Linked DNA regions of Homo sapiens. The protein of the gene in region 2 interacts with the protein of the main gene of each other region in a pairwise test. Each region holds a gene or a part of one and is shown on either strand. Other genes may lie near its edges.

The links.
Region 1: the proteins of TMEM130 (region 2) and TSPAN2 interact in binary tests that used the Homo sapiens proteins (3 or more experiments, as listed by UniProt).
Region 3: the proteins of TMEM130 (region 2) and TMEM100 interact in binary tests that used the Homo sapiens proteins (3 or more experiments, as listed by UniProt).
Region 4: the proteins of TMEM130 (region 2) and SLC2A5 interact in binary tests that used the Homo sapiens proteins (3 or more experiments, as listed by UniProt).

What each region holds. Positions count from the first base shown.
Region 1 is NC_000001.11:115,058,188-115,065,530, reverse strand, and holds part of TSPAN2 (tetraspanin-2), read left to right. Parts: intron 1-3,298; coding exon 3,299-3,396; intron 3,397-4,992; coding exon 4,993-5,067; intron 5,068-6,549; coding exon 6,550-6,648; intron 6,649-7,343. UniProt on the Homo sapiens protein: May play a role in signalling in oligodendrocytes in the early stages of their terminal differentiation into myelin-forming glia and may also function in stabilizing the mature sheath.
Region 2 is NC_000007.14:98,859,796-98,867,138, reverse strand, and holds part of TMEM130 (transmembrane protein 130 isoform b precursor), read left to right. Parts: intron 1-3,738; coding exon 3,739-4,044; intron 4,045-6,800; coding exon 6,801-6,960; intron 6,961-7,343.
Region 3 is NC_000017.11:55,719,865-55,727,091, reverse strand, and holds the start of TMEM100 (transmembrane protein 100), read left to right. Parts: upstream 1-4,227; 5' UTR 4,228-4,473; exon of another isoform or gene 4,474-4,479; intron 4,480-5,956; 5' UTR 5,957-6,021; coding exon 6,022-6,426; 3' UTR 6,427-7,227. UniProt on the Homo sapiens protein: Plays a role during embryonic arterial endothelium differentiation and vascular morphogenesis through the ACVRL1 receptor-dependent signaling pathway upon stimulation by bone morphogenetic proteins, such as GDF2/BMP9 and BMP10.
Region 4 is NC_000001.11:9,052,412-9,059,754, forward strand, and holds part of SLC2A5 (solute carrier family 2, facilitated glucose transporter member 5), read right to left. Parts: intron 5,840-7,343; coding exon 5,741-5,839; intron 5,198-5,740; coding exon 5,037-5,197; intron 1-5,036. UniProt on the Homo sapiens protein: Functions as a fructose transporter that has only low activity with other monosaccharides. Can mediate the uptake of 2-deoxyglucose, but with low efficiency. Essential for fructose uptake in the small intestine.

The DNA.
Region 1 (7,343 bases), on a different chromosome or scaffold from region 2:
CTGGCATCCCAAAGGCCAGCTATTCATGATGAAAATGTAATTTCAAAATGTTTTCTATTTTTCAAATCAAAGGCAATAGGACTCGGAAAGCATGAGGGCTTTGGGAAGTAGGTCGTATGTTTGTCACACCTGCTCCTGTGGGAAGGAGAAGGCTCTACAGTAACCATCTTGGAATTTAAAATGTGGCTGTAAATTAATTATTACATTCAGCAGCTATTTTTTGAGGGTCAGACCATAAGAAGGATAAAGTATCCTTGGAAGCCACAGGTGGCCTTATGGCATGCGGAGTATTAGAGCCAGATTTGGAACTGGATCCGGCACGCCCAGGGAACCTTTCCTCTTGTAGAATTTCTTCTGCTTTTCCCTTCAGCTTCAGCAAGCAATGTTCATTTGGAGCTGGGCTGAGTCACGGGCCCACACATACAAAACAGAGGCTGGCTGAGAAGTGGCCTCAAAGTTGAAGCTGCTAGGGCAGCTTCAGGTTGTTTTTGCCGTGAGCTCTGGGATTCTGATAGCCTAAGAATGAAATATTGTTCAAAAAAGCACACTTTCCTGAAAAGCTCATTATTTCAGAAGGATAAGGATTGTTGCCTGAGGGAGCAGACAGTTTCATTTACAGTGGGGAACAACTCTGGCCTCCTCAAACCTCTGTGCCCCTGTCCAGTGAGCCTCCTGCCTCCTCACGAGCCTCCCTCTTTCACATATTCCAGGGTGTCTCGGGGTGCGAAGCAACCATCCTCATGTGCTTGGCTTTGGAGAGCACAGCTATGTAGTTGCTTTGTGGATGTTTGCTGAGACCTGTTTCCAGCATATATCTCTAAGCAAAGATGGGTGATGACAGCCAGCAAGCCTGGAACTGATTTGATTTTCTCTGTCTTATCTACTAATCCAATGCACACTGACTAAGAATTCTGCCTTGTGCAGGGCATGTTCTAGAGAGGATGAATAAGGTTTGTCAACTTGAAATCTATAATGAGAGACTAATATGAGAACCTGCAAAAGCACAAAATGGAAAAGAGCAGGACACAGCCAGATCATGGTGAATTCCCAGGTGGCTGGAGCATAGGATGGATAAAGATTTTGGGGGAAACTGTTCTGTAGGCTGTGACTTCATGATAGATCTGCAAACGGCATCATGTAGCAATTGTGGCAGTAGCAATGAGAGGCAATGGGCATGTTCTGCAGCAAGGGGGTCCACCAGGAGACATTCCATGAAGGAACTGAATATGGTGTTGTTGCTGCCGCCCTGCATTCAGCTCGCTTCTGTGGGGTGGTCAAATAGAAGTGTGGGATGGGAATTGGGGCTGCAGGCCAGGGCATCCTGCCTACAGCCATCTTGACTCTCAGACCTCCATTTGTAAAACAGAAATAATAGTCCTTGCTTACCTAACCACGTTGTTTTGAGAAGCCAATAAGATGATGGAAGTGAGAGCTTTGAAAACATTGCAACACAGTGAATGACTTTTTTTTTTCTTTTTCAACTTTCATTTTAGAATCAGGGGGTACATGGGCAGGTTTGTTACAAAGGTACATTGAGTGATGCCGAGATTGGGGGTATGACTGAACCTGTCACTGAGGTAATGAATATAGTATCCAATAGTTAGTTTTTCAACACCTGTGCCCCTCTAGTAGTCCCCAGTATCTATCATTCCCATCTTTATGTCCATGTGTACCCAATATTTAGCTCCTACTTATAAGTGAGAACATGCGGTATTTGATGTTCTGTTCCTGTGATAGTTTGCTTAGGATAATGGCCTCCAGCTGCATTCATGTTGCTGCAAAGGGCATGATTTTGTTCTTTTTTATGGCTGCATAGTATTCCATGGTGTATATGTACCACATTTTCTTTATCCTATCTACCATTGATGGGCACCTGGGTTGATTCCATACCTTTGCCGTTGTGAATAGTGCTGCAGTGAACATGTACCCTTTTGACAGAATGACTTATTTTCCTTTAGGTATTTACCCAGCAATGGGATTGCCGGGTCGAGTGGTAGTTCAACTCAGTTGTTTGAGTCATCTCCAAACTGCCTTCTGCAGTGGCTGTACTGATTTACATTCGCAACATTGTATAAAGTGTCCCCTTTACTCCCAGCCTTGCCAACATCTGTTATTTTTGACTTTTTAACAAAAGCCATTCTGACTGGTATGAGATGGTATCTCATTGTGGTTTTGATTTGCATTTCTCTGATGATTAGAGATGACGAGCATTATTTCATGTTTGTTGCTCGCTTGCATGTCTTCTTTGGAGAATTGTCTGTTTATGTCTTTTGCCCACTTTTTAATGGAGTTATTTGCCTTTTGCTTGTTGATTTGTTTAAGTTCCTTACAGATTCTGGATATTAGACCTTTGGTGAAAGACATTTTTAAAACAATAAAGTGTTGAGGTAGTGGGGCCAACAACACTATTATTTTTAATATGATATCATTTCTCACATTACCACATCCATTCCCTCATGAAATTATTCTTTTAGAGAAAAGGGAAAGGGAGGAGGTGGTAGAGCTAGAACAGCAGGAAATAAATACCCACCTCAGGACTGCAGAGCAGCAAGGCCTCAGGGCCCTGAAAAGAACGCTGAGGCCAGGTCCGGGTGGGGCAGGAAGCAGAGCAGCCTCGCCTGTGGCTCCTACTAGGTCTGTAAACTGCCAGATCTGCCCGCAAACCACCATCAGCAACCCAGAGGCGCCCCAGGAAGCACCCTGAATGCCAGGCCCAGGGGTTCCCCACAGAGGCGGGGCACCAGCCCCCACCCTCCCTATTAATGGGAGTGGTTTCCAGGTGACTCATATGAGTAAAATGCAAAAAATGAAATAGAGACCATTAACATGATTCCAAGTAAGACAAGTGCCAAGTCCCATATTGTATTCTAACTTATCTCAGGATCAGAGAAGGAAATACAAAAAGGCTTGGCTTTAGTTCTCTCAGAACCAGAGCATTTCTGTCCTTTTCTTTCTCTGTAAGAACTGTACGTGGGGCTTGCCTAAGCAGTAAGTGAAATCCCCACCTGAATGATGGCTGCCTCCATCACTAGAGATGCAAGACAGAGTCGGAGTGTTGGGCAGGCTTTTGAGGCTCATGGCTATTTTTCTCCCGGCTCTGCCAAACACCAGCTCTATGACCTTAAGCAAATCGCTTTACCTTTTGGGGCCCAGTTCCTCCGTGTCAAACATGGCAGTAAGAATAGCACCTCCTTTTGGTACTATTAGAATGCTCTGCAGTGCCCAGAGTCTTAAGCCTAGTTGGTCGTGGAGGCACTCGGTTGGCTCTCAGTGGTCTCCTCTGACCTCTTCCCCACAGGGCTGTATGTTCTGGTTGGAGCCGGGGCCCTGATGATGGCCGTGGGGTTCTTCGGGTGCTGCGGAGCCATGCGGGAGTCGCAATGTGTGCTTGGATCAGTAAGTGGGGCGAGGGGGTAAATGGTGGGGTGGGGGTGAGGGAGCGGCCTGCATCTGAAGGGAGTCAGTGCCTCTGGCCCCTGGCTCCAGCTCCTCCGTGGACTCTCTGAGCCCTTGGCATGCACTTTTCCTCCCTCAGTCTTGGTTTCTCCATCTCTTATATATGAATAATACTAACTAGGGCCGGGTGCCATGACTCACGCCTGTAATCCCAGCACTTTGGGAGGCTGAGGCAGGAGGATCTCTGGAGCCCAGGAGTTTAAGACTAGCTTGGGCAACACAGGGAGACCTAGTCTCTACCGGGTGTGATGGCACACACCTGTGGTCCCAGCTACTCAGGAGGCTGAGGCAGGAGGATCACTTAAGACCAGGAGTTGGGAGGCTGCAGTGAGCCATGACTGTACCACTGCACTCCAACCTGGGCGACAGAGCAAAACCTTGTCTTGAAAAAAGAAAAAAGAAAAAAAATATTATCTTTGTTCCTGCCTTATATGGGAAGTGTGAAAAGAAATGACGTCATTGGTGTAAAGATGTTTTGGGAGTAAAAGTACTTAGTAATTGTAAGGGGTGACTATGATTGTTCTTTAAAAAAAAATATTTCACAGTGGGTGAGGCAGCTAAAAGGTTTCTATAGCCAGGGAAGTGCTGTTATCTACAAGGAAAACATTTATGTTTGAGATCAATAACTTAACCAAAATCCCTCTTGTGGCTTATTTTAACAAGCAACCTCTGTTTAAAACAAAAATCAAATAATTTCAATTAACTGCTATACATTCTATGTCAGTGTAGCCTGAGAGAAACAGAAAGGAAGAAGAGGGGCAGGAGGAGAGAAAGTGTTGATATTTCTCCACAGGGAGTCAGAAACAGCAGTTTTAATAGGCAGCCTCTCATCTCTCATTACTTATTGTGATATTTGGATTTTTAACTCTGGCCGTAGCCTCTGATCTCTTGCTATGTGAAATGTCTGACTTATTTCTTTGCCATTCATTCCTTCTCTTTCTCCTACTGTTGAGCACATTTCTGTCTTGTTTATCACTGAACTTAGTTTGATCAGAGCAAATCCATAGACCAGAACAGAAATCCATCCAGAAGGACACCCCTCACCTCATCTCCTCAAAGAAGCCTTTCCAGACCACAGAATCTCCAGTCACCCCCTTCCCCATGCCCAGGCCGCATCAGTGATGCTCCCTCTCCTGACCTTATTTTATATCTTTCTAGGTCTTTTGTGTTCGTCAAGTATTTACTAAGCACGTAGGTGCCAGGTGGTGTTCTAGGTGGTGGGATTTTTACATCACTACCTGAACTTATCTTATTCACTTTTTAACTTCTTTACACAGTTATCGTATATTCCTCTGTCCAATCCAAGGTCCGTGATAACAGAGACATTTGGATATTATCTTGTTCACCACTGAATAGTCAGCACCAAGGACAGTACCTGGTGCAGAATAAATGCCTAATAAACAATTGCTGAATGAATGAATGAATGAATGAACCACATGAAAGCGATTCAGCCATTACATAAGGAAACTAAGGTGCAAAATATATAAATTGAAAAGGTATTAAATTAATGAAATTAGTATTTTCTCTCCTCTACAGTTTTTTACCTGCCTCCTGGTGATATTTGCTGCTGAAGTAACCACTGGAGTATTTGCTTTTATAGGCAAGGGGGTAGTAAGTAAAATTACTTATAATGTTTTTCTATGATGGTTAAAAGTGTTAGAATATTGATACCCACAATAGTGTTAAGAAACCAAATAATCCCCATTATTATAGTTTAAACAGAACTTTTTAACTTAGAAGTGGTGTGCAGAACTGAGCATATATGTATATGAGTGTGCAGGCATATATACATGCTCACATTTTTCTGGGGAGATAGTTCATCTCTTCCATTAGACTTATGAAGTGGTCTATAATAAAACCAAAAAAAAAAGGATCTCTAATTTAAGATTCTTCCCCATTGTGAAATGGGGTAACAGTTAGAGTACAGACTTGAGAAAGAATCTAGATTCTCATCCCCTGTCAGACTGCCATTTGTCCTTAAGGATTGGCCTGGATGGGTCCATTTCATTCTCAAAGAGCAGAGCCTACACTGCTGTGGGCTAGTGAAGCCAGTTTATATTTGCTGCCCAACTCTAGGTGTCCAGAATAGGTTATCGGGGGGACACACAGAGGAAGTAGCCTTTCTTCCTCTGTAAAACACACTGTGGGATAGAAGAGAATGGAATGGAAAAGGAGGAAGAATGGAAACTTAAGTTTGGTGTATTTCACATTAACTCTTGTGTCATTAATATTATGTTTCTGAACTTATTTTAGACTATAAAACAGTAAACATGTAGAATAGTAAATGTCACCTCCTTTTGAATTTTTCTAAAGTAACTGGCTGTGTTCATAGGTTAGTTTAAATTCAGCTACATACAGAAGTAGAATGGAATCTTAGGACCTGTTGAGATATCTGTGGATTTGAAATCACAAGCTTTTATACTAGAAAAAGCATTCTCTAAGCTTTATATGATATCTGAATGTAGAAAGTTTTCCTTGGTGATGAATACCTTTTAAACCACGTCATAAAAAGATTTGAATGCTTTTAACCAATGGGGTAACAGGAATGTATAAGTCCGGATCCTAGCTATGCATCCAAATCATCTGGATGGAGCCCAGGAATCTGGGGCCCAGTTGATGCTGAAGCCCAGTTGGGCTTGGGAACTGTCAGAAATCTTTCTAGTCCATGAAAACTGTTCTGGTTAGTCTGTCCTTCCATCCTCAAAAGCATCTTAGAAACTCCAGAAACTATAATCTTCTCCATATGTTGCTGAATTATCCTAAAATACCTATGGAAAGGCAGTATTTTTTTTTATTTCTACAGGTTTTGTGGGGAACAGGTGGTGTTTGGTTACATGAGTAAGTTCTCTAGTGGGGATTTCTGAGATTTTGGTGCACCCATCACCCGAGCAGTGTACACTGTACCCAATGTGCAGTCTTTTATCCCTCACCTCACTCCTACCCTTTCCCCTGAGTCCCCAAAGTCCATTGTATCATTCTTATGAGAAAGGCAGTGTTTTTCAAAGGTGTGGAAGAGGAGATTTTCCTTGATGAAAGGAGAATGTTTGAAACTTCCCACCCAGAAGTCCTTCATTTTTCCTTGTATTTCTTCAGGCTATCCGACATGTTCAGACCATGTATGAAGAGGCTTACAATGATTACCTTAAAGACAGGGGAAAAGGCAATGGGACACTCATCACCTTCCACTCAACAGTGAGTAACTTCACTTCTTCCTTAAAATCACAGCTTCTAAAGATTATGTGTGAGCCAGGTTCTCACCAATCACCAGGATTAAAAATAAAAATAAATTCAGTAAAGCCAAGTAGCACCACCTATTTTAGCCCTTTTGAGGGCCACAGTTTGCATTATGTGTGGAACCCTAGAAGGGAAAGATGTCTATCACACAGAGTTCACAAGAGAGACAGAAGAGCATGAACCCAAAAGACACATGCCCCAAAGAGACAAAAGAGCACAAACAAGGTTACAGAGAAAGGAGCCCAGATAAATAGCAGGCTTTGTCAGAGGGTAGCATTGTGGTGTAACAGAAACAAGTGTGACCTGTAAGTCAGAAAAGCTAATTTCTAGCTGCAGCTCTACCATTCAACAGCCTTGTGACCTTGAGCAAGTTACTTGGCCTCCCTGATACCCACGCAGCTCCCTCATTTGTAGAATGAAGGGTCACAGGAGATGGCTACACTCCCTTCTGGAACATTCAGTGGGACTGTGCTGTCCGTGGAGTGCTCAGAGCTACATGCAGTTAATCACAGAAGGCTTACAGAGGAGATGGGCCAGGCCAGAGTTATTCTGATTTTTTAGACACTGTGATATGAAGAAGTAGCTGTGAATTCCTGGGCCAGGTGTTTTCAGGTACCTAGTTCTTGTCTAGGACAAGTATGTCTTGGAAAGTG
Region 2 (7,343 bases):
TCTTGACTCAAATGACTTGATTTTTATTTATTTATTTTTGTAGAAAGGGTCTCTCACTTTGTTGCCCAGGCTGAAGGGCAGGGGCGCCATCATAGCTCACTGCAACTTCAAACCCCTGGGCTCAAGAGATCCTCCTGCCTCAGCCTTCCAAGTAGCTGGGGCAACAGGTGCACGCTACCATGCCTGGCTAATTTTTAAATTTTTTTTTTTGTAGAGAATGGGTGTCGCTGTGTTGTTCAGGCTGATCTAAAACTCCTGGGCTCAAGTGACCCTCTGGCTTCAAAGCGCTGTGATTACAGGTGTGAGCTGACTGGGCCCGGCCTCAAATGCCTTTATAATTTAAGAAATGGCTCTGAAAAAAAAGGAAATACGTGATGTGGGCCAAAGCAGCGAACGTGTGAGGTGGGCCTGAGGAAAGGTCGGAGCTGGAGTCCCCCACAGGGACAGGTGATGTTGCTTTGAAGTGAATGAGATGCGTCTGAAAAAAATAATCTCAGAGTTGCCTGGGCACTAGAAGGGGCTTCCCTTGCCCCCTCGATTCCTGCTTCTACTCCCCGGGCTGGCCCTGCCCTGGAAACCACACGAGGGTGGCCCACGCATCCGTCAGATGTCTGGGGACCATGTACCTGCTAAGGGAGGGGAGGACGAGGCAGGGACATGGGGATGTATCAGGGTCAGTCATCGTGCCACAACCCCCAGCCCCCAGGGAACACGGGATGGGCAGCATTTTTACTTTAAAATGTTGCCTCATCTAGAGGGGTTTTCCACCCTGTTGGTGCTGGCTTTGGGGAGATATGATTTTATTTGATTTATGTATTTATTTATTTGAGATGGAATTTCGCTCTTTTTGCCCAGGCTGGAGTGCAGTGGCGCAATCTCGGCTCACGGCAACCACCATCTCCCAGGTTCAAGTAATTCTCCGGCCTCAGCCTCCCGAGTAGCTGAGATTACAGGCGTTCGCCACCACACCCGGCTAATTTTGTATTGTTAGTAGAGACGGGGTTTCGCCATGTTGGCCAGGCCGGTCTCAAACGCCTGACCTCAGGTGATCCACCCACCTCGGCCTCCCAAAGTGCTGGAATTACAGGCATGAGCCACCGTGCCTGACCGAGATGCAATTTTAGAGCCCAGGAGGCCAGGCTGCTATTTCTTCCAGGAGTGATTTCCCAAAATGGACCTGGAGCTGACAGGTTCCTGGGGGGACTTGTGGGGGGACCTTGTGCCCACTCGGTCGTGCATCTACTGTCCCCACATCCCCATCGCCAGAAGGCCAGCACCCACCTTTCTGCCACATTTTGGGAACCATAAAAGGACCCAGATTGGAGACTTGTTGAGGGACAGGTGGGACGTGGGCAGCTAACGGGGTTGAATATTATCCAACAGTTTTCATCCCCCTCCCCCCTCATAATAGAGTGGCAGAGAGAGGGTAAGGGATCTAATGAAAATTTGTGAAAGAAAAACAAGGTAAAATAGTTGAAATAGTTGAAAACCACAAGGTCAAATAGTTGGCCTTTCTTTTTTTAAATTTTTTTGAGACAGTTTCGCTCTTGTCGTCCAGGCTGGAGTGCAGTGGCGCAATCTTGGCTCACTGCAACCTCTGCCTTCCGGGTTCAAGCAATTCTCCTGCCTCAGTCTCCCGAGTAGCTGTGATTACAGGCGCATGCCACCACACCTGGTTAATTTTGTATTTTTAGTAGAAACGGGGGTTTCTCCATGTTGGTCAGGCTGATCTGGAACTCCTGACCTCAGGTGATCCGCCCGCCTCGGCCTCCCAAAGTGCTGGAATTACAGGTGTGAGCCACCACGCCTGGCCAGCCTTTCTTGTTGAAAGCCCAGCAGGTCTCCTGTGAGGTCCCTCCAGGGAGGGGCTTGTTCTGTATTTCTGGATCCTCCCAACACGGTAGGGATGGGGTCCATGGAAGGGACTCAGTCAGTGCCACCTGGGTGAACAGTCTCCTGGGGCAGGGCCAGGTGGGCTGGTCCCTCTGCTGCACCTGCTCTCCGGGTGCCCCTTGGCAACAGCAGTACCAAACACCTGCTATGTGCCAAGCGTTGTGCTGGTCACAGGGATGATGGAAATGACCCCTGCTCTAAACGAGTTTGAAGCATAGCAGGAAAGGCAAAGAAACTTTCATTTCCACATGGAGTTGTGACAACAGTGGACTCAGCTGTCGGGAAAGAGCTGAGGGGGTGAGAGGTACAGGGAAGTGTTTTTATTGTTTGTTTTCTTTTGTTTTTGAGACGGAGTCTCACTCTTGTTGCCCAGGCTGGAATGCAGTGGCTCGATGTCGGCTCATTGCAATCTCTGCCTCTTGGGTTCCAGCGATTCCCCTGCCTCAGCCTCCTGAGTAGCTGGGATTACAGTCATGCACCACCACACCCAGCTAATTTTTTGTATTTTTAGTGGAGACAGGGTTTCACCATGTTGGCCAGGCTGGTCTCGAACTCCTGACTTCAAGTAATCCGCTTACCTCGGCCTCCCAAAGTGCTGGGGTTACAGGCATGAGCCATGATGCCTGGCCAACAGCTGGATCCTTTAACCCTGACAGAGAGAGAGGAGTGAGGAGAGGAGGAATCCAGAGGCATGAGACCAGCACTGTCCAGTAGATCTTTGGACAATGTGGTTGAGGACGCTGGCTCATGCCTGTAATCCCAGCACTTTGGGAGGCTAAGGCAGGAGGAGTGGTTGAAGCCAGGAGTTCGAGACCAGGCTGGGCAACATAGTGAGATCCTGTCTCTACAAAAAAAAAAAAAAAAGAAAAAAATCAGCCAAGCGTGGTGACTTGGACCTACAAGTCACAGCTACTTGGCAGGCTGAGGTGGGAGGATCACTTGAGCCCAGGAGTTTGAGGCTGCAGTGAGCTATGATCATGCCACTACACCCCAGCCTGGATGACAGAGGGAGATCTTGTCTCAAAACAAAACCAAAAGAATTCTGGGGAATGGTAGAAATGTTCTCTGTGTGGCCTGTCCAGAAGAGTAGCCACTAACCAAGGCCCTGCCCGGCTGGCAGGAAAAACAAAATATAATTTGGGCAGCCTGGGCAACATAGACCCCCATCTCTACAAAAAATAAAAAATTAGCTGGGTGTGGTGGTGTGTGCCTATAGTTTCAGTTATTTGGGAGGCTGAGGCAGGAAGATCTCTTGATCCTAGAAGGTGGAGGCTGCAGCGAACTGTGATGATTGTACTCCAGTCTGGGTTACAGAGTGAGATCCAGAGAACGAAAGGGAGAGAGAGAGAGTGAGAGAGAGAGAGAGAGGAAGAAAGGAAGAAAGAAAGAAGGAAGAAGAAAGAAAAGGAAGGAAGGAAGGGAGAAAAAAAGAAAGAAGAGAAAGAAAGAAAAAAGAGAGGAGGGAGGGAGAGAGGAAGGAAGGAAGGAGAGAGAAAAGAAAAGAGAAAGGAAGGAAAGGAAAGAAAAAGAAAGGAAGGAAGAAAAGAAAGAGAAGCAGGGAAGGAGGAAGGAAGGAGGGAAGGAGGAAGGAGGGAAGGAAGAAGGAGGGAGGGAGGGAGGGAAGGAAGGAAGGGGAAATAAGACTGAAAAGACTGTGATTTGGAGTCAGTGGGACCCAGGTTTGATGTCGAATTGGCTGAGTGACCCTTGGGCAAGTCACTTGAGCTGCCTGAGCCTCAGTTTCTCCACCTGGGAAATAGAATAGTTGATGCCAGCCCAGAGGTGGCTGTGGGGCTCCTTGCCACACACCATTCTGAAACACAGTCTTTGTTTCTGGGCTCCTAGGCCTGTATGAACTCAATCTCACCACCGATAGCCCTGCCACCACGGGAGCGGTGGTGACCATCTCGGCCAGCCTGGTGGCCAAGGACAACGGCAGCCTGGCCCTGCCCGCTGACGCCCACCTCTACCGCTTCCACTGGATCCACACCCCGCTGGTGCTTACTGGCAAGATGGAGAAGGGTCTCAGCTCCACCATCCGTGTGGTCGGCCACGTGCCCGGGGAATTCCCGGTCTCTGTCTGGGTCACTGCCGCTGACTGCTGGATGTGCCAGCCTGTGGCCAGGGGCTTTGTGGTCCTCCCCATCACAGGTGAGGGTCGCTCCCATTTGCTAGTTTGCCTTCAAACCCTTGGTGCAGAGAAAAACATCAAGCTTCGCTAGGAATCAGATCAATGCAGATTAGGCCCGTAGGTTCTGGGGGATTAGGCCCGTAGGTTCCTTCCCCGGGTCAGTCGAGTTAGAAAGGATCTGAAAATGGCAGTGATTGCCCCCAGGAGGTATTGTGCTAAAAGGGACGCCTATTGCTGCTGAGGGTATACATTAATACAACCCTGTGGAGAGCGACTGGTCAATAGGTACTGTTGGTTAGAAATTATTGTAGTCTCAGCTGGGCGCGGTGGCTCACGCTTGTAATCCCAGCACTTCGGGAGGCCGAGGCAGGTGGATCGCCTGAGATCAGGAGTTTGAGAGCCATCTGGCCAGCATGACAAAACCCCGTCTCCACTAAAAATACAAAAATTAGTGGGGGCATGGTGGTGGGCACCTATAATCCCAGCTGTATAAGAGGCTGAAGCAGGAGAATCGCTTGAACCTGGGGGGCAGAGGTTGCAGTGAGCCGAGAACGTGCCACTGCACTCCAGCCTCGGGGACAGGGTGAGACTGCATCTCAAAAAAAAAAAAAAAAAAAAAAAAAAAAAGAAATTATTGTAGTCTTGGGGCCAGTCATTCACTGGTTCTTTCTCCCCTCTTTCTCCCCTTTCTTTTCTGTCTCTCTCTGTCCTTCTCTCTGTTCTATCTCTGTCTGTCTCTTTCTGTCTCTCTCTGTCCCTTCTCTCTCTGTTTTCCCTTTCTATCTTGCTCTTTCTGTTCTCTGTCTCTTTGTCTCTTTCTGTCTCTGTCTCTTTGTCTCTGTCTCTTTATCTCTGTCTCTATGTCTCTTTGTCTCTCTCTCTCTCTCTCATTCCAAGAGAAGATGCCCCTTTGCCCCTTTAGACTTTCCAGTCTAATAATGAATTTATCTTCAGGAAATAAACCTGCATTTGGGTCATGCCTTTTGCATTAAGGTGTTCATTGCAATAGTGTTTATAATAGCAAAAGAAGAGATAAACAAGCTAAGTGAGCAACCATGAGGAGATTGGCTAAATATAATAAAATCATTTATACCACTATTAACAGTGACCCTTACAATGAGTTTGTAAGGCCATGGGTAAATACACATGCATGTAAAATTACATATTAAAAAAGCAAAGCACAGAATTGTCTAACCCAATAATCTGTATTTAATGTATGTGTATATTAAACACTGAAGCAAATACTTTGTCATACTTCAAAATGGCAACAGTGGTTGAGGTGAATGTTAGTTAGCTTCTTTTCTTCTTATTTTATGTTTGAACATTTTCCAAATGAGCTCTATTGAGCATGCCTTTTTCTTTCCACTTTTACTAATTTTAATTAATTTATTATTACTATTTTTGAGTCAGAGTCTCCTTCTGTTGCCCAGGCTGGAGTGGTGCTGTGATCTTGGCTCACTGCAACCTCCACCTCCCAGTTCAAGCGATTCTCGTGCCTTCGCCTCCCAAGTAGCTGGGACTACAGGTGCTGGCCACCACACCCAGCTAATTTTTGTATTTTTAGTAGAGACAGGGTTTCGCTATGTTGGCCAGGCTGGTCTCAAACTCCTGGCCTCAAGTGATCTGCCCACCTCAGTCTCCCAAAGTGCTGGGATTACAGGTGTGAGCCACCGTGCCCCACCAATTTTTTTTCTTTTTAGAGAAGTAGACATAGGACAGTGGTCCCAACGTGTGAAGCTGTGATCAGTGGAACTGCTAATTTTTCTTTTTTCTTTTTGAGACGGAGTCTTGCTCTGTCACCCAGGCTGGAGTGCAGTGGCGCGATCTCGACTCACTGCAAGCTCTGCCTCCCGGATTCACACCATTCTCCCGCCTCAGCCTCCCAAGTAGCTGGGACTACAGGTGCCCGCTACCATGCCTGGCTAATTTTGTTTTTGTATTTTTAATAGAGACAGGGTTTCACTGTGTTAGTCAGGTTGGTCTTGATCTCCTGACCTCGTGATCTGCCCGTGTTGGCCTCCCAAAGTGTTGGGATTATAGGTGTGAGCCACCGTGCCTGGTCATTGGAACTGCTAATTTTTCTAGGGTCACCTGACATTCTGAAATATTTCTCAAAAGTTCCTTTCAAAGCTTATGCATTTCCTTCTTCTTTTTTTTTTTTTTTTTTTTTTTGAGACAGAGTCTTGCTCTGTCGCCCAGGCTGGAGTGCAGTGGCGCGATCTTGGCTCACTGCAACCTCCGCCTCCCAGGTTCAAGCGATTCTCCTCCCTCAGCCTCCCAAATAGCTGTGACTACAGGTGTGTGCCACCACACCTGGCTAATTTTTGTGTTTTTAGTAGTGACGGGGTTTCACCATCTTGGCCAGGCTGGTCTTGAACTCTTGACCTTGTGATCCACCAACCTCGGCCTCCCAAAGTGCTGGGATTACAGGTGTGAGCCACCGCACCCAGCCATGCATTTCCTTCTGACCTTGGGCATCTTTTGTGCCAGAAAGTTCAGGGTCCTTGTGAGAGGGGACAGGAGAGAAAACAGTGAATGTGACAGAGTCCTCCGGTGTTCAGCAGTGTTCATGCAGCAGGGGGAGGGTGCAGATGCCTCTGTGTTCAGGGGTCTTTGGGGAGTTGTAGGGGGGTGTCCCCTCTCCCTGCCTAGCTCTGACAGCCAGAAGGTCCGGGCAGGGAAGTGGTGGCTTTGACAGCTGCCCATGAAGTCTCTACCTGGTTTCCTGATCCCTGAATCTCCAAGACTCACCCTCCCGTGTCTCTCTCTCTCCCAGAGTTCCTCGTGGGGGACCTTGTTGTCACCCAGAACACTTCCCTACCCTGGCCCAGCTCCTATCTCACTAAGACCGTCCTGAAAGTCTCCTTCCTCCTCCACGACCCGAGCAACTTCCTCAAGACCGCCTTGTTTCTCTACAGCTGGGACTTCGGGGACGGGTAGGTCCTTACCCCTCTGCAGGCCCTACAGCTGTCACTGGTGCCCCACTGTCCCGCGCACTGTGCAGGGTACTCCGAATCTCTTCACCTTTAATTTTTTTTTTTTTTTTGAGATGCAGTCTTGTTCTGTCATCCAGGCTGGAGTGCAGTAGTACCATCTTGGCTCACTGCAACCTCTTCCTCCTGGGTTCAAGTGATTCTCCTGCCTCAGCCTCCCCAGTAACTGGAACTGCAGGCTTGCGCCACCACACCTGGCTAATTTTTGTATTTTTTTTATTTTTATTTTTTTTAGTAGAGATGGGGTTTCACCATGTTGGCCAGGCTAGTCTCAAACTCCTGGCCTCAAGTGATGTGCCTGTCTTGGCCTCCCAAAGTGCTAGGAT
Region 3 (7,227 bases), on a different chromosome or scaffold from region 2:
TTTCATAGTTACTCAGAACAAAATGGGGTAAGAGAATGGGGATTGTAATGTGAATCTAAAAGATGTATGTTTCCCTTTCTATATTCAAATGGATCTTATGAGATTCCCATACCTAGAAATTGACCACCAATTAGTAAAATACAGATTTATATCTAAGGCACATTCATTGTTCCTCTTGGTACTATCAGATCTCTCTATTTAATGTCCTAGACCTCAAAGAAAAGTGTTTTGGAGGAGAAAAAAAGAAAAGGAGGAATAATAACATGACCTGCTATCCAAAATGAACACAGAAGCACAGATCACTTTCCAAAATGTCCATGATTTCAGAACATAAATGCAGGCACACCCTTAAAAGAAGCATTAGAGAGGAGAAAACCTGGCCAGCTTCCCAAATCTCCCTGCATCCAATTGGACTGGGTGATGACTGAGATCAAAGGCATGTGGTGATTGGACAGAAGGCCAAGAGGAACTGGCATCCTCAAGGCTGCTGGAAATTAGCCAGCTCAAACACACCAAGCAAAAGCAAATTGGAAATAAAGACAGGCGAGTAATCAAATGCACATGGGGGCATGCTTCACAAAATGCGAACTTCATGTGTTCCCAGAGGAGAAATTGCCAGGTCTTCAACAGCACAAACTCAATAGGAAAATCAAAACATCCCCTTTTGCAACCTTAGAGCCTGAATCTTTGGCTTCCACTTTAGGGAAATGGGCAAAATGACCTCTTTGTCATAGTACACACCATGCTCCCTGCCCTCCTCCACTCCCAGACCCCTCTCCCCTAAGTAACTTTGTCTTTCATTTTGTTTCTAAAGAAAAAAAAATGAGATTTTTGCAATTTGGGGCATTCTCTCTGGAACAGCAAATGTTCCCAGCTCTGCCGTTTACAATGCCTTTGGTGGAAGGTCACCTCGGAGGTGTGATTTTTCAGTATAACATAATTTCTATGGTGCCTTGACATCCTCCAATGAAGAGCACCAATAGGACCACTCCTCTGACATTAGGGAGAGGGTCCACTCAGGCACCAAATGCCATTCTCACCACTAATCCTAATCTTCCTTGTACTCCTTTTATTACCTGCATGTTATTGGGAAAGAGGATGGTTTATGGTCCCATTCCCCTACATACACACTTTCCAACCCCATACTCCCTTAGAAATGTAGAGCAAAGATTACGAATTCTTTTCTGCAGGTTCTGATTCACAGAGGGAGAGCATCAGAATGGGGGCTTTGGATAGGAAAAACCTTGCAAATTAGTGCCTGAATAAAGATATAAAAAGAGAAAAGTGAAGGAAGATATTCTTCTCAAACTTGATGCCCTTTCTCTCTGTCTCTGTCTGTATACACACACACACACACACACACACACACACACACACACACACACACACATATATATGGGTTACATTTTCATGGAGGACAACAGAGTAAAATCCAGCAGCATTTAAGGGATTTCCTCTTGCCAAATTGTCTCCGGTCCCTTAATTGTGTTTAAGCCTTGCTGAGTACTTTGTTTACGGTCCCTAATGTGGTGATTTGCATCCCCCTGTCTGGGTTGCTCTTGGCAGGGCAGGCAGCTGTCTCAGTCTAACTCTGGCTGGGAAAGGTAAGGATCTTTGCTTTGCTTTTTGAAAGATCTGGGAAGGAAATGTTGAATGTCTATGGGGGTTAGGGGCATAGATATAATTCATGCATTGGAGGCTTTGAGAAAAGTTCTCCAAACTTAAAGGAGTCTCCTAAAGCCATGTGCTTTAGAAAGAACTAGAGAGATTTCCTCTTCTTTGTGAAAATAGAGGGCTCGCAGAAATAAGGCTGGTTGCATTGTGGATGAAATTTTGCATTTGGGGGCAGGTGTCCCCAAAGGATGCCCAGGGGTGTTTAATACTTTGTAGACACAGAGTGGAAGGAGGAATAAACATTCAGAAACAACAGGCATAGATCACTAGGAATTCTCTTTGAATTTCAATTTGAAGAGGTAAAGTCAGTTAAAGCTGCATGTGTCAGTGGTTAGGATGACAGGCTTCTATTCTTCTGATACAATGTCTGCTTTATACCAAAACTTTCTACCTCTTTGAATTTAAAATACAAATCATTGGTTGTCTACTCAGAGTCTAGAGATGTGTACCTGTGTATCAAGGCAGGTGCACACACCCTGTGGAGGAGCATTGGTGTGAATGAGGCACCTGAGCCTGACAAGGTTGAAGAAAGCTTTGGTATTGGAAGTGATGACAGATTTGTGCTCCTAGGACACAGACACACTCACTGCGCCTCATTATAGACTCAGTCAAGGGCTTACTATGAAAAAAGCTGCCATTGTCCTCTCTCTAGACGTTCAATGTTTGCACCTTTAGCTTTGGTAACAGGAAAGCATGCTTTTCAACAGAATAAGGTGATATTCAGAGCTTCAGTGCAGTTATTGGGCTATCTTGCAGGCAAAGTGGTACTAGAAAATAGAGGGGAATTGCCCTCAAGGGCCAGAGTTTGCAGGTGAGAAGACAGCTCTGTTAAGGAGCTTCTCAAGAACCTCCATTGTACGTAGCCAGCGGCCCCCATCTTACCATCTTCCGGGGGCAACTTTGGCAAGTTCTGAAATGCCCTGGTTCTAAGTATTCCTGACCCTCAACACCAAGTGACGGTACTCCTCAGATATGAAAGCTGTCTCTTTAGGTCTGACATTTTTAAAGTGTGAGGATCATGGTGACCAAGGCCTCCAGGTACTTGCCATGACTCCCCCAACCTCAGGGACTTTTCAACTTTATTTTTTATAAGGACATAACCCTCTCTCTGGCTTTCATTCCAGAATAAACAACTTCTGGTCCCTCTCTTTTTGTGACAAGTCATCAGGGTATTGCTACAAGGCAAGGCTGGAGAGAGTGTGCTGTGGTAGAGGAGAGGCGAGATGTTTGAGAACATCCAAGCCCTTTGCCAGCTATTAGAGAAATCTAACAATTTGAGAGAAAGATGGAAAACAAATCTCTTCCAAGAGTTAATTTGGATTTGTGGTTCACAGTATTAATTAGAAGAGGTTATTAACACTTGTGCAGATGAAAAAATGGAGGATGTAAACTTTTAACTACAGAGTGTAGGATGAGCTCCCAGTATTATCTTTTCTCCTCAAAAAGACAATCTTGGGCTTTATATGTTTCAAGGTTTTAAAAATTTCACAGTTTGTCTGTAAGAAAGCATAAACCTATAAAGTCACTTACAGGTTTATGGGGTGGGAAATAGATGTTTAACTTTATTGTTTAAGTATGATGTGTCAAGTTGTATATGTTTGAATGTTTAAAATACCTTGATCCTTAAAGTGGGCCAAGGAACAGAGGTCTCAACATAGGTAGGGAGCTTGTTACAGACTTACTGAATCAGAATCTAAATTTAACAATCTCCCCAAATGATATATATATCCATTAAAGATTAGGGTTCAAACCAAGGGTGTCTCTGTTACTGGGTGATCTTTGTTAAATTACTTAACCTCTCTGAGCCTGTTTCCTCATTTATGAACTAGTGAGAATTAACATTAATATGTGACATTTCTTAATATTGTGCCATGTCCACAGTAGGTGCTCTATAAATGGTAGCAATTATCATGATGATGATAATCTTGGTGCTGCTAAAGTTACCTCCTTGCAAAAGCAGTAAACAATCATGTTTAAATCAATATAACTGGCTTTCCCCCTTAACCACAAACATTTGTGCCTCCCACCCTCATTCCTAAATGAATTAACACTCAACAAGTGGGGTTTTAAGCTTCAGATGACTATCACGCACATATAAAGAATAATGGAAAACCTAGGAACATGGATTTTTGCTGGCTTAGAGACTGAATTCAGCTGCCTGATGACTTCACAGCTGTTTCTGCCACCCTAGAGTATCTGTCCCCTCGGCTCTGTCCCCTCAGCCGGGTCTGCAACGCTGACTCTGGGATTTTCTTATAAAAATGCCTGATGGACGGGAGGAAGATCTGGAGGTCGGCGGGGGAAAAAATGAGTCATTCAAATTCACAAAGCAGTCCGCTTAGTAAATGCTGCAAGAGAAAAAGTAAAAGCTGGCTCCTGTCTCTGGGGAATCTGTAGAAATGATTCGGACTCATCATGTCACTGAGCAAAGCTGGGGGAAGCCAAAACTCAGAATCTGCTGGCAAGGAAAAGAACGAAGGAAAAAAAAAAATGTTAGGGAGGGGCAAACCCGAGGGGGAGGGAATAAAAAGAGAGAGGGAGGGAAAGACAAGCGTCATTTAGGAACAGAGGTAGCCTGAAAGAAGCAGGAACTCCAGGATCCCAAACCAGAGCAGACCCTATAGTAAAGTATTTTTACATCTTTTCCTTTCCCCAGAAGAGATCCCTAACCTATTGTTTTATTGACAGCCTTGCTGTTAGAGGCTCTTTCCCAGAAGTTGGACGAAGAGGCTCAGGCGTTGCTGTTTCTTGTCTTCCAAGTCAAGTGGTTACTCTGGTAATGGATTGCCTCTCTCCGAGGTGAGTGTAAGTAATTTGGGGACAGATCTTGATTTTCAGGTTAGCTCAATCTCAGCTTTGGGGTGAAGTTATTTTTTTCAGACATAATCTCAAATATCTTTTAACTGGCCTCACCAGAAGTTAGGGTGTCATTGGACAACAGTGATTAATTAGTTTGGTGATTAAAAATGACATGTGAGTAGGCAGCTCTAAGATTTAGTTTCATTGCTCAGGGAGTGATATTTTGACTTTCCAGAGCAGGGAAGAACCAGTGAGGTTTGATTTGGAGTTGAATTTGTTTTCAGTGGATGCTTAATATATTTAAAGTATGAATCTCATTGAAATGGTCTCAAGTATCTTTCTTTAAACTTGTTCGGTAACTACAACTGCTCAACTGTGTAGCAGCTAGACAGCTTTTTGAGAATGGAAGACAGTGACTCAACCATGTCTGAGCAGCAGACAAGTTTTCACTGATTTCTCATAGACAGCATTTCAACCAGATACTTTTGATCAAAAGTCTCAAGCTTTGTCCTGAAATGTTCAGGTACGAAATACTTAGAAAGGGTCATTGCAGCAAGTTTTATACACAAAGGCATGGAGGAAAATGAAGGTTGTGAAAGTTTCCTGAAAACCTAGCATGCTTATTTGTTTCTGCATGTTGTAGTATACATAATATCGAAATTTTGTGTTGAGCTTAATAGAAAATTTGTGAATTGACAGCTAATTACTCAAATAATTGATTTTATTTTGCCAAGAGAAAGCACAAAATTATATCCTATGAAGGGGTTGAATTTTTTTTTCTTATTTTTTCTCTTTTATAGCAGATTGGAAGATATTGTTACACTTCAGACCACAAATCCCCACCTCATTTTCAATGAATTTTTTGCTGAACTGTCCACCTAAAGTGGGTAATAAAAAGATCCCAGGGAGCAGGTTGCACTGTGTTTAATAGTAACACAATAAAGATTTGTTGGCTGTCATTCAATGGAGAAGAACATCATTTGTTGCTGGCCACTTGCCTTGACATTGATTTTGTGGGCAGCCAATGGGTGATAGTTTGCAAAGAATGCATGTTATGCCCAGCAAGATTGGCGGAGTCTGAGTTGCTGTAAGTTCTGGGATTAATGGTACGAAATATTGTTTGTAATGTATTCTCCTCTTGAATGAGACCATCTTTGGATTAGGATTCAGGCATTTCTGTGTATTCAGAGGAAGGAGAAGCAATAGACAAAGCAGAAAAGCTTGTAAAACTTTTGTAGACCGCCAGGGTATATTAAACACTGTAAGTGCTTCCTGCTTTTTCTGTCTTCCCTTCATATGCATCTGCTTCATCTTATTTTTTGCCTAAATGCAAAGAGAATGCAACCAATTCAAAAAAAGAGTAAAGTTGCTTTTCACATGGATCTGTGCCTCCTAGAAAGGAGGTGCCTCCCCAGCTTTTCATTTCTGCTTACAGGGTGTACATTCTGATACATGTAGCTGACATCTCCTGTTATCTTCACAGCTTTCACCCTGGTGAGACTGTCCAGATCTAGTCTGTAAACCCAGCTTAGAAGCACTGTTGTAAAAATGACTGAAGAGCCCATCAAGGAGATCCTGGGAGCCCCAAAGGCTCACATGGCAGCGACGATGGAGAAGAGCCCCAAGAGTGAAGTTGTGATCACCACAGTCCCTCTGGTCAGTGAGATTCAGTTGATGGCTGCTACAGGGGGTACCGAGCTCTCCTGCTACCGCTGCATCATCCCCTTTGCTGTGGTTGTCTTCATCGCCGGCATCGTGGTCACCGCGGTGGCTTACAGCTTCAATTCCCATGGGTCTATTATCTCCATCTTTGGCCTGGTTGTTCTGTCATCTGGACTTTTTTTACTAGCCTCCAGTGCCTTGTGCTGGAAAGTGAGACAAAGGAGCAAGAAAGCCAAGAGACGGGAGAGTCAAACAGCTCTCGTGGCAAATCAGAGAAGCTTGTTTGCTTGAGACTGAATACGACCAAATGGGCCATTGGGCCTGGAAAACGTGCTCTGACTTTGTCACCCAATTCACCCAGAACCATGGTGGGAGAGAACAGACTTGGCGTTGGAGCAGACTGGAAGAATGGGGGTGGGAGGGTGGAGGGGCTTCTCCTTTGTGAGGAATGACTCATGTCTTCTTTAACGACAAACTTAACCCTAAGGGCTACTTCTGAGACTGAAAAATCAGCTTTCTATTTACATGAAACACTTTGGGGGTCATGGGAGTGCACAGCATTAGACAGTATTTGGTTCACCCTGTAAAGTAGCCAAGAAAAGATGAGAAAAATCAAGATAGGCCTGGCACACTAGACATTTGCCTCCAAAAGAAATAACCTACAGTCTTAAGATGTATCATAAAAATGTTCTGCCAAGGATCTAAATTACCTTGGGTTTCGCATATGTCTATGAAATTCTGTGATAATTTTTTTCAATACATTGATTCACTGGCGTCTGTTTTCATTTTATACTTTTAATAACTCATCACTGGTGGTACTTTATCTTGAAAAGTAATATTTTTTATATTTTAACATTGGACAGTGTTAGCCAGTTGTAATGATGTATCAGAAGTAAAGAAAAACCCATTAAAGTTATAGCTAATAGATGCTGTTGGGGGTTAAATTAATAGTAAAATAATCCAATATAGCACTTTTGATGATTTTTATATAAAAGTCAACTGTACATTTCATTCAGAATAATAAATACTTATTGCTGCTAAAACTTCTTAAATGGTTGTTTCTGCTATAGTTATTTCTATTGCAGTTCCAAA
Region 4 (7,343 bases), on a different chromosome or scaffold from region 2:
GACTAGGCAGAGCATAGAGGATTCTTAGGGCAGTGAAACTACTCTATATGATACTATAATGGTGGATACAAGTCATTACGCATTTGTCAAAACCCATAGAATGCACAACATCAAGAGTAAACCCTAATGTACACTATGAACCTTGGGTGATGATATATGTCAATGCAGGTCTCATCATTTGTAACAAATACAGCGCTCTGGTGAGAGATGTTGATAAAGGGGGAGACTATGCATGTATTGGAGGAGAGGTACATGGGAAGTCTCTATAGCCTCTTCTCAATTATGTGAGCCTAAAACTGCTCTTTAATAAAGTCTATTTTTAATGGCAGGACATGGTGGCTCTTGCCAGTAATCTCAGCACTTTCAGAGGCCAAGGTGGGAGGATGGCTTGAGGCCAGGAGTTCAAGACCAGACTGAGCAACATAGCAAGACCCCATCCCTGTAGTCTCAGCTACTAGAGAGGAGGATCACTTGAGCACAGGAGGTGGAGTCTGCAGTGAGCCACAATCGTGCCACTGCACTCCAGCCTGGGCGACAGAGTAAGACCATATTTCAAAAAAAAATATATATATATATATGTTTTAAAAATATTTTTTAAAATATATTTTTTGAGATAGGGTCTTACTCTATTATATATTAATATATAATATATATTATATATTTATATATTAATATATAATATATATTTATATATAATATATATTATATATTTATATTACATATATTTATATGTTAATATATATTTTATATATTTATATATTTTATATATTTATATATTATATATTTATATATTATATTTATATATTATATATTTATATTATATATTTATATATTATATTTATATATTATATATTTATATTATATATTTATATATTGTATATTTATATTATATATTTATATATTGTATTTATATATTATATATTTATATACTATATATATTTATATATATTATATATTTATATATTATATATATTTATATATATTATATATTTATATATTATATATATTTATATATATTATATATTTATATATTATATATATTTATATATATTATATATATTTATATATATTATATATTTATATATAATATATATTATATATTTTATCTATATATTTATATATTAATATATATTATATATTTATATATATTATATATATTTATATATATATTTTTTAAATAGGCAGGGCACAGTGGCTTATGCCTGTAATTCCAGCACTTTGGGAGGCCAAGGCAGGCAGATCACTTGAGGTCAGGAGTTCAAGACCAGCCTGGCCAACATGGTGAAACCTCATCTCTACTAAAAATACTAAAATTGGCTGGACATGGTGGCAGGTGCCTGTAATCTCAGCTATTTGGGAGGCTGAGGCAGTATAATCACTTGAACCCGGGAGGCAGAGGTTGCAGTGAGCCAAGATTGCGCCATTGCACTCCAGCCTGGGTGACAGAGCAAGACTCTGTCTCAAAAAAATAAAAAAATAAAATAAAAATAGTACTATAGGAAAGAACAAAAAACTATAAAAGTTATCTAAAACAATGATAGAAAGTAGATTTTAAAAACGAATAAATAGAACTTATTGAAATGAAAAATATAATCATTAAAAACGTAGCAGGTTTATTACATCCGAAGAGAGAATTAATGAATAGGAAGGTAGACCTGCAGAAATTACCTAGAAAGCACCCGAGAGAGGTAAGAAGATGGGAAATATAAGAGATTCAAAGACACGGAGGAACTTCATGGAGAAAATCGGGGAGGGGCAATATTTGTAGAGATATTGGCTGAAAAAGTCTCAGAACTGATGACAAAGACATGAAACTTCAGACAAGGAACCACAGTGACTCCCAGGATAAAGAAAACTAAATCCTTGGTCCTTTACGATGAAACTTTATTGGAGGACATGTAAGAAGACCTGAAGACAATGGAAAGCTCTAGTTTGCTCATGAGTGGGCAAGGTCAACATTGTAGAGATGTCAGTTTTCCTCAGGTTAATTTATAAATTCAGAGCAATGCCAGTCAGAATCTTTCTTCCGGGATTTTGAGAAGCTGACTTAAAATTTTAAATGGAAGAGTAAAGGAGCATGAATAACTAAGATAAATTTGAAAGCAACTGACTTTCCACTTGGAAAAATAAAATAAAATTAGTTTTCTCTCATCACTCAATATATACAAAATAAAACACCAGATCTATCTGGAAGAACAAAATTGTGAAATAAATTTTAAAAATATAGAAGAGGCTAGGCGTAGCGGTTCGTGCCTGTAATCCCAGCACTTTGGGAGGCCAAGGTGGGAGGATTGCTTGAGCCCAGAAGTTTGAGACCAGCCAGAGAAACCTAGTGAGACCCTGTCTCTACAAAAACTAAAAAATGAGCTGAGCACCATGGCACACACCTATAGTTCCAGCTATTTAGCAGGCTGAGGCAGAAGGATCCCTTAAGCCCAGGAGTTCAAGGCTGCAATGAGCTGTGATCATGCCACTGCACTCCCACCTAGGTGACAGAGTGAGACCCTGTCTCACACATATATATTTATAGTGTTTGCTTTGTAAGTGTCCTCAGTTGAGAAGCAAAATCTATAAATTTGACCACTTGAAGACTTTAAAATTTTGCATAAAAAAGGTACTATATGTATGATTAAAAAAATAAAGCAACAGATTGAGAAGATATTTTCCCTAAGTAACAAAAGTAGAGTGTAGACATTACTTGCTCATGCTCAGAAGTGAAACATCCTGGGTTGGAGTCCTGGCCACCTCCCAGCTGTGTGATCTTGGGTAAGTTACAGTGTCTCTCTGTGCACCATTTCCCCATCTTTAAAATGGAGTGGGGATTAGCCGGGTGCGGTGGCTCACACCTGTAATCTCAGCACTTTGGGAGGCCAAGGCGGGTGGATCACAAGGTCAGGAATTTGAGACCAGCCTGGCCAACATGGTGAAACTCCGTCTCTAATAAAGATACAAAAAATTAGCTGGGTGTGGTGGCATGCGCCTGTAATCCCAGCTACTTGGGAGGCCGAGGCAGGAGAATCGTTTGAACCCGGGAGGCAGAGGTTGCAGTGTGCTGAGATCACACCATTGCACTCCAGCCTGGGTGACAGGGCGAGACTCCATCTCAAAAATAAATAAATAAAAATAAAGTGAGGATTGTAATAGTACCTCTAAACACAGTCAGGACAGTGCCTGGCACATAGGAACTCATTAATAAAAGTTAGTTGCTATTTAAATAACACTGGCCACATGCAGTGTTTCACCTCTGTCATCTCAGCACTTGGGGAGGCCGAGGTGGGTGGATCACTTGACGCCAGGAGTTTGAGACCAGCCTGGCCAATATGGTGAAACCCTGTCTCTACTAAAAATACAAAGATTAGCTGCGCGTGGTGGCAGACACCTGTAATCCCAGCTACTTGGGAAGCTGAGGCAGGAGAATGGCTTGAACCCAGGAGGTGGAGGTTGCAGTGAGCCAATTTCACACCACTGCACTCCAGCCTGGGCGTCAGAGCAAGACTCTACCTCAAAAAATAAAGAAATAAATAACACCCACAAATACTTAAGAAAACGGCAAATAGCCAAATAGTGTTTATCAGACTCCTAAGTAGACAGCTCAATTAGCAACCTTCAGCTCCATCTGTGGGCCAAGCGGCGTGCTCTTAACTCAAGAAGTGTCCGGCAGGTCTGATTCTGACTGGAGGGATGTTCTGCTCCATGAGGGCCCACAGGGAAAACTGTGGGTTCAACACTAATCTCTCAAGAGGATGTTAGATCCCAAAGCTGCAGCGGTGTTTTTTGTTTGTTTGTTTTTTGAGACGGAGTTTCGCTCTTGTTGCCCAGGCTGGAGTGCGATGGTGCGATCTTAGCTCACGGCAACCTCCGCTTCCCAGGCTCAAGCAATTCTCCGGCCTCAGCCTCCCGAGTAGGGGGGTTACAGGCACCCACCACCATGCCCGGCTAATTTTTGTATTTTTAGTAGAGACGGAGTTTCACCATGTTGGCCAGGCTGGTCTCCAACTCCTGACCTCAGGTGATCCGCCCGCCTCTGCCACCCAAAGTGTTGGGATTACAGACGTGAGCCACTGCGCCCAGCTGTGTGTTTTTATTCTCAGATTCTTTTCTTGAAATACTGGAGGAGGAGTCAGAGTCTGGGTTACTCTGGGCTCACTAGATCTGTGACCTCACTCAGCCCCACGTGCTCCTCATCCCTAGACGGGTTGGACAAGGGGACCTCTAAAATTCTCTTTCTAACTAGGTCTTCCATAATGTCCATGGAATTTATACGGGGGAGCGTGACATCTTAAGGACACTTTTTTGAAATAAAATATGGCATTTCTAATGTTTCTAGAAATAGGGGCAAAGATACAGCCCTGACCCCTTTGTTCACGAGGCTGGTGTCACAAGAGAGATGTCCTAGATGACACTGTGGGGCAAAAGGGCAGTATGAGCAGAAGCAAGTCCTGGGTCTCCACAAGCACACACGGCTCCTTCCGGGTCTGCCCGAGGGCCTGTAGATCCCTGGCCACCCCTGCTTCTAACCCCTGAGACCCTGCCTAGGTCCCCAAACACTGTCAATGTCTGATCTTCTTTTCTGACCCCATTAGAAAATAAAAATGACCGGCCAGGCGCAGTGGCTCACGCCTGTAATCCCAGCACTCTGGGGGGCTGAGGCGGGTGGGTCACCTGAGGTCAGGAGTTTGAGACCAGCTTGACCAACATGGTGAAACTCCGTCTCTACTAGAAATACATTAGCTGGGTATGGTGGTATACATCTGTGATCCCAGGATCAGGAGGCTGAGGCAGGAGAATCGCTTGAACCTGGGAGGCGGAGGTTGCGGTGAGCCAAGATCGCGCCACTGCATTCCAGCCTGGCTGACAGAGCAAGACTCCATCTCAAAAATTAAAAAAAAAAAAAAAAAAAAAAAGAAAGAAAAAAGAAAAATGACCACAGTGGTTATTATCTTAGTCTCATGGTAAGGATTTCAGTTGTAGGCCTGTATTTTAGCTCTGATGGGGGTCTATGAGTTTCAGGGAATTAAAAATTCACCTTCCCTTACCTGCCAAATTTATTCACCAAGGGGCCGACCAGGAGGGATCCGATAAACCCTCCAAATGGAAACATGGACACGGTTACAGACCACAGCAACGTCAAGGGGAAGTCTTCCATGAATTCACCGGTCCTACCATAGTAAGTCTCATTGTAAAATTGTTGCATGAGCTAGGAGACAAAGCAAAACAGAACACCAAAATAATTTGATCCGGTTTTGCAAGAAGAACATTAGCTGTTAGGACACCCAATGAAATAACCTGGGCACACAGAGACCAACCTTATTAACCGGGGGGTGATGGGAGGCAGGACAGAGCTTCAGGAGCAGTGAGAAGGGTGGGCACCCACCGGGAGGGCTGGGAAGCCTCTCAGCAGCAAACCACCCTGGGTGTTTCTCAGCCAGAAAGGGATGACTCCAATTTTCCAATCAGCTGGGAGACCCCTGGCCCCCCCGGATTCCCTCTAAACAGCAAGGCCACAGAAGATCTGAGCCCCCTCCTAGAGCCCGGCCCACTGTGTGTCCATCCAGACCTGGCCCATCCCAAGAGACCTGTGTCTGCGAGTTCCCTCGGGTCTGTGCTGTGTCCGGAGGGTGTTTCCCTCTCCCTTTGCTTCAGGACCCACTGCGTGAACAGCCCCACGCTGGCCAGTCCCACCCAGGCAATGGGCTGCTCCAAACGTCCTCCCCACATCTTGCTCACCACAGTGACCTACCAGTGCTGGGGAGTTGACAGCAGCCACGTTGTACCCATACTGGAAGGATGACCCAAAGGCAGCTATCAGGGTTGCCAGGGCAAGCACAAGCGTCAGCCTCTGCAGAGATCACAGCTTAGGTCAGGAAGCAGCCCCAGGGTTCCAGGGCCCTCCCGCTTTACTTCGGTTTCGTAGAAAGATGTAACAGAATCTGAAGATCCATAGTCTTGAGACTACTCCATTCCTTGAAACCTACCCTCAACCCACCTTGGGTTACAGGCTTTCTCAACCATGGCACTTTTGACACTTGGGGTCTGATAATTCTTTGTTATGGGGGCTGTCCTGAGCACAGCAGGATGTTTACAGCATCCTGTGAACATGGTGCCAGTAGCACCCCTCTCCCCAGCTGCGACAACCCAAATGTCTTCCAACATTGTTAAGTGTCCCCTGGTGGGGAAGTGCTCCATTTGAGAACCACTGGATCAGAGAGAAGCTGAAACCTACTTCTCTAACACTGCAGCTACTGCAGCTGTTTGAATTGCTCCTGTGACATTCCTGCCACGTGGGGCATTTGCCAACTGCAGCAAATGTGCTCTTGCACCATCTCAAACATAAACTCCCAGAAAATCAAAGAGAAAAAGAGAAAATTTTAGCTATTTTGGCCACTGAAAATTTCCTTTCAGACAATCTTTAATGACAAGAGGAAATTCATTAGTAATGAAGAGCAGGAGACAGACATGGAAAGAGCTGCGGGCTTAAAATCTACAGGCCTCAGTTTTGAATCTACCTGTTGCCACTTTTCAGCTTAATTTCTAGGATCTTCAGTTTCTTCATCTCTGAAATGAGGACAATCACACTCCCTACCAGAGTGTTTGCCAGGATTAATTACGACCATGTCTAGCTGCAGAGGTGAATCTGCTGTTGGAGAGAGCTTGGGACGCTGCTCTCTGACTTGCCATCAAAGGACCTTCTTCCATCTACTCTGATGGACAGCCGCCTTTCTTTCTTTTTTTTTTTTTTTTTTTTTTTTGACACAGAGTCTTGCTCTGTCACCCAGGCTGGAGTGCAGTGGCGCAATCTCGGCTCACTGCAAGCTCCGCCTCCTGGGTTCACGCCATTCTCCTGCCTTAGCCTCCCAAATAGCTGGGACTACAGGCACCCGCCACCACGCCTGGCTAATTTTTTGTATTTTTTAGTAGAGACGGGGTTTCACTGTGTTAGCCAGGATGGTCTCAATCTCCTGACCTCGTGATCTGCCTGCCTTGGCCTCCCAAAGTACTGGGATTACAGGCGTGAGCCACCACGCCTGGCCAGAGAGCCCCCTTTCACAGGTAACACAGGTTCATGCTTGGCCCTCCAGTGACAAGACAAGCACTATCCCACGGTATCTAAATCTACAGAGAATCTTTTTTTTTTTTTTTTTTCTGAGACATTTCTTGCCCTGGCTGGAGTGCTGTGGTGCTATTATAGCTCACTGTGACCTCAACCTCCTGGGCTCAAGTGATCCTCCCACCTCAGCCTCCCGAGTAGCTGAGACTACAGGTGCATGCCATCATGCCTGGCTAATTAAAAAATATATTTTTATAGAGACAGGGGTCTCATTATATTGTCCAAGCTGGTCTCA